Regions from separate parts of the Homo sapiens genome. Here region 1 is linked to region 2. The links come from fine-mapping of genetic effects on gene expression. Tissue or cell type: nasal epithelium. Region 2 holds a variant in brackets; the other region holds the start of a gene. All regions are shown on one strand. Distances are between the middles of the regions.

The links. PIP is the estimated chance that this variant, and not a neighbour inherited with it, causes the effect.
Region 1: it holds the start of TTL, and the variant in region 2 is fine-mapped to the expression of TTL in nasal epithelium (TOPMed, PIP 0.97).

What each region holds. Positions count from the first base shown.
Region 1 is chr2:112,480,712-112,483,393 of GRCh38, forward strand. It overlaps TTL (tubulin tyrosine ligase), which reads left to right and starts at 1,445. Exons shown (of 7, transcript NM_153712.5): 1 at 1,445-1,790. The coding sequence starts at 1,634. RefSeq lists an enhancer at 776-845 and silencers at 1,166-1,555, 2,116-2,215.
Region 2 is chr2:112,507,988-112,510,669 of GRCh38, forward strand. The region is part of intron 5 of TTL (tubulin tyrosine ligase); the gene reads left to right. Among named protein-coding and RNA genes, the nearest start is that of TTL, 27 kb to the left of the region's middle. The variant C/G (reference allele first, on the strand shown) is at 1,396.

The sequences.
Region 1 (2,682 bases), 27 kb before region 2:
ACCTGTGGCACAGGAGTCGTCAGTAGGAGTCGCAGGAGGAATTGATGCAGCATGGTGGGAGTGGACGTCACTTTCAAGGTGATCAGCCGTGAAGAGCGGCAAACACAGCGTCTTGGCTCGAGTTCCCCCAAACGGTGCCCCCTGGAACAAGAATTTGAGCACGAGTACAGTAGTTTTTTTGGGAGGTGATCCCAGGAAACATCGGTAGTCAGGGAAAGGAAGGAAGCCAACAGAAGATGCCCTGATGAGCAAGTTGCAGCTGTGGACAACCGCAGCCGTGGCCTACAGAGGACCACCGCAATACGCCTAGGACACACGCCTCCCCGCAGGGCACGTGCGGAGGGCGAGAGGGCCAGGGCATTCTCGACCAACTCTATCCCTCGTGGAGGGAGAGCAGCTGGGAAGGAGTGCAAGCACCCAGCACCTCTAAGTCTGCCCCATTTCTGCTCTGAGCGGGCTCTCCACAGCCAGCGGTTGCCTGCAGGTGGAGCCGGTGCGCAAGACAGGCGAGTGAGCGCCTGGCGGCCCCGTGGAATCTGGGCAACGATGGGAAGGAGAAGGGCGCTTTTACAATGTGCTCGGGTAGATACCGTGAGCATCGGGGGACAGGAAGGGGAGAGGCCCCAGGGTGTTCTTTATCTACAGGAGAGTAAAAGATGCAAGGCGCAGGGCTGATGTGGGTAATTTATGAGGGACTGTAGGAAGTTTGGGGGAGCTCTGATGATCATTGCCTTCTCTTTGTATCTCAAATGCAGCAGCACAGTCTTCAGAGTGGGCTATCAGAACCGAAGGGACTTTTAAGAGCCACTCTCCGCCGCTCATAAGGGGAAATCGAGGTCCGGAGAAGGGAAAGCAAGTGGCTGAATGCCGGTAAAAGGCAGGAAAAGAGCGGAGCCCAGGGCTCCAGGGGGTCGGTTTGGGACCTGCTTCCACCAGCAGAGTCTAAGGTCATCCCCTTGGCCGTGCGCCACCCTGGGCTCAGCCGAAGGAAGGAGCACTCGACACAAACAAAACCGACGCTCCGGGTCTCCGTAGTCGTTAAGCAAAGAGGAAGAGGAAGCGCTTCTTCATTAGGCCACAGGACCGGGCCTTAGAACTTTTGGGTTTTATCCATTAAAGGTCCTTTGGCAATAGAAGAAAAACCCAGATCGAGCCCTGCAAACTGGGATCTTCCGCCGGCACCGCCCCCCGGCTGCGACCCGGGGCTCGGAAAGAACCACCCCAGGCCCGGGCTCCGGTTCCACCGCACAGTCCGCCCGCTGCGGTAAAGCCGCGCCCACCGCCGCGGGTCTCCAACCCTGCGCCGCCGCCGCCCCCGGGGGAGGGTACGGAAAGGGCGCGGCGCCGCCGCCCACGGGCTCCTCCAGAGCGCGGCGGGGCCGGGCCGCGCGGAATCACGGGACAGAGGCGGGGCCGCGCCGGCGGGGGCGGGCGTGCGAGCGGCGCTTTCCTCTCCGGCACCCGGCGGGCGCCCGGGCGCGGCGCCGCCGGCACCCGAGAGGCGCGGTAGCCGGCGCGGGCGGCGGGGGCCGGGCCGCGGCGGGCGCCCGGGCGGGGTCCGCGCTGAGCCGCCTTCTCGGCCGCCTGGTCCCTGCGGCGGCTGCCCGGCGGCCCGGGCGCGCGGCGCTTCGCCATGTACACCTTCGTGGTACGCGATGAGAACAGCAGCGTCTACGCCGAGGTCTCCCGGCTGCTCCTCGCCACCGGCCACTGGAAGAGGCTGCGGCGAGACAACCCCAGATTCAACCTGATGCTGGGAGAGAGGAATCGGCTGCCCTTCGGGAGACTGGGTGAGCCCCTCCCCGATTCCCGTCTGCCCTCCTCGGAGCGGCCCTGCGCGCCTCCCGCGGCCCGTTAGAACCGGCGCTTTTGTTTTTAAAGGTCATACATTTTCTCCTCTGTCGCTTGTCGGGCACATCAGAAACGGATTCGGAAAGATCGAAACCTGTCGTTTTTAATGCTTTCTTGTCTCCTAACTTGGATTTAGAGTCGGAGTCGCGGTGCGGCCACTCGGGGCCGCAGCTACCTCCCGACGGTGACCGGTCCCTGCAGCCCGGGAGACGCTGGCCGCCGGGGCTGGGACCTGAGGCGCGAGTCTAGCGGCTCCCCCGGGCCGAAGCCCCCAGATTTGGCGGGTCCGCCGCGCTGGGCGCGGCTCCGCAGAGCGGGCGGCTGGAGTCATCTTTTGCAGCTCGTCTGCACTGAGGATTTCTCCCTGCTTGGCGTGGGCGCGGGCGGGGGAGCCGTAGGTGTTGAAACCCCTGAGGCTTCTGCCCCCCGAAGGCGCGGAGGAGCGATCAGAGGATTTGGAAAAGACCCCCGGATTCCAAAAGCAGGAGCTGCAGAAGAGACCCTAGCCCAGGGAAGTGTGGAGGGATGTCTGATTATAAACCTTTCCTTAGTTTCACCAAATAATGTGTTTTCGCAGTTCTGCATTGGATTAAGATCTTACACGAGGCTGCGTTCGCCCTCCCTGTCTTCCCTGCTCTCCCCGAGGGAATTACCTTCATCCACATGGTTGAAGCTGGCTGGGCACCACCATACCCACATGTCCACGGGTAGGAAAGCGCAGGAGATAGGAGGGGACTAGCGGCTCCTTTGTAAGTGATGTCATCCAGAAGTTGCCCAGATCGGTTCAACTCACATCCTATTGACCTGAGCATAGTCTCATGGCCTCCCTCT
Region 2 (2,682 bases):
GAGCTCTTTTAGGGCAGGCCTGGTGGTGACAAAATCTCTCAGCATTTGCTTGTCTATAAAGTATTTTATTTCTCCTTCACTTATGAAGCTTAGTTTGGCTGGATATGAAATTCTGGGTTGAAAATTCTTTTCTTTAAGAATGTTGAATATTGGCCCCCACTCTCTTCTGGCTTGTAGGGTTTCTGCCGAGAGATCCGCTGTTAGTCTGATGGGCTTTCCTTTGAGGGTAACCTGACCTTTCTCTCTGGCTGCCCTTAACATTTTTTCCTTCATTTCAACTTTGGTGAATCTGACAATTATGTGTCTTGGAGTTGCTCTTCTCGAGGAGTATCTTTGTGGCGTTCTCTGTATTTCCTGAATCTGAACGTTGGCCTGCCTTGCTAGATTGGGGAAGTTCTCCTGGATAATATCCTGCAGAGTGTTTTCCAACTTGGTTCCATTCTCCACATCACTTTCAGGTACACCAATCAGACGTAGATTTGGTCTTTTCACATAGTCCCATATTTCTTGGAGGCTTTGCTCATTTCTTTTTATTCTTTTTTCTCTAAACTTCCCTTCTCGCTTCATTTCATTCATTTCATCTTCCATTGCTGATACCCTTTCTTCCAGTTGATCGCATCGGCTCCTGAGGCTTCTGCATTCTTCACGTAGTTCTCGAGCCTTGGTTTTCAGCTCCATCAGCTCCTTTAAGCACTTCTCTGTATTGGTTATTCTAGTTATACATTCTTCTAAATTTTTTTCAAAGTTTTGAACTTCTTTGCCTTTGGTTTGAATGTCCTCCCGTAGCTCAGAGTAATTTGATCGTCTGAAGCCTTCTTCTCTCAGCTCGTCAAAATCATTCTCCATCCAGCTTTGTTCTGTTGCTGGTGAGGAACTGCGTTCCTTTGGAGGAGGAGAGGCGCTCTGCGTTTTAGAGTTTCCAGTTTTTCTGTTCTGTTTTTTCCCCATCTTTGTGGTTTTATCTACTTTTGGTCTTTGATGATGGTGATGTACAGATGGGTTTTCGGTGTAGATGTCCTTTCTGGTTGTTAGTTTTCCTTCTAACAGACAGGACCCTCAGCTGCAGGTCTGTTGGAATACCCTGCTGTGTGAGGTGTCAGTGTGCCCCTGCTTGGGGGTGCCTCCCAGTTAGGCTGCTCGGGGGTCAGGGGTCAGGGACTCACTTGAGGAGGCAGTCTGCCCGTTCTCAGATCTCCAGCTGCGTGCTGGGAGAACCACTGCTCTCTTCAAAGCTGTCAGACAGGGACACTTAAGTCTGCAGAGGTTACTGCTGTCTTTTTGTTTGTCTGTGCCCTGCCCCCAGAGGTGGAGCCTACAGAGGCAGGCAGGCCTCCTTGAGCTGTGGTGGGCTCCACCCAGTTCGAGCTTCCTGGCTGCTTTGTTTACCTAATCAAG[C/G]CTGGGCAATGGCCGGCGCCCCTCCCCCAGCCTCGTTGCTGCCTTGTAGTTTGATCTCAGACTGCTGTGCTAGCAATCAGCGAGACTCCGTGGGCGTAGGACCCTCTGAGCCAGGTGTGGGATATAATCTCATGGTGCGCCGTTTCTTAAGCCGGTCTGAAAAGCGCAATATTCGGGTGGGAGTGACCCGATTTTCCAGGTGCGTCTGTCACCCCTTTCTTTGACTCGGAAAGGGAACTCCCTGACCCCTTGCGCTTCCCAGGTGAGGCAATGCCTCGCCCTGCTTCGGCTCGCGCACGGTGCGCACACACACTGGCCTGCGCCCACTGTCTGGCACTCCCTAGTGAGATGAACCCGGTAAGGTACCTCAGATGGAAATGCAGAAATCACCCGTCTTCTGCGTCGCTCACGCTGGGAGCTGTAGACCGGAGCTGTTCCTATTCGGCCATCTTGGCTCCTCCTCCTGGTCTTGAACTCTTGACTTCAGGTGATCTACCCCCCTCGGCCTCCCAAAGTGCTGGGATTACAGGCGTAAGCCACCATGCCTGGCTAATTTATATTTTCCCTCTATTTTGCTTGGACAGATTGACTAAACATTTATCAATTTTATCAGTCTTTTCAAAAAATTAGCTTTTGGTTTTATTGGTTTTCTCTGTTGTTTTTCTTTTCAGCTTCTTTGATTTATGCACTTTATCATTCTCTTCCTTTTGCTTTTTGGAGGATATAATTTACTCTTTTTCTAGTTGTGCTTTTTGTTTGTTTTTTAAGAGATGGTGTCTCATTTTATTGCCTAGGCTGGAGTACAAGTGTGATCATAGCTCACTGCTGCTTCAAACTTTTAGGCTCAAGGGATCTTCCTGTCTCAGCCTCCCAAGTAGCTGGGACTACAGGTATACACCACTGTGCCTGGCTAATTTTTTTATTTTTTGTAGAATTGGGTCTCACTGTCTTGCCCAGGCTGGTTTCAAGCTCCTGGGCTCAAGCAGCCCTCCCATCTTGATCTCCCAGAGTGCTGGGATTATAGGTGTGAGCCACCATGCCCAGCCTATTCCAGTTTTTAAGGTGAAAGTTTAAATAATTGATTTGAGATATTTCTTTTTTTTTTTGAGATAGAATTTTGTTCTTATTGCCCAGGCTGGAGTGCAATGGCACGATCTCGGCTCACTGCAACCTCCATCTCCTGGGTTCAAGCGATTCTCCTGCCTCAGCCTCCCGTGTAGCTGGGATTACAGGCATGTGCCACCATGCCTGGCTAATTTTGTATTTTTAGGAGACACGGGGTTTCTC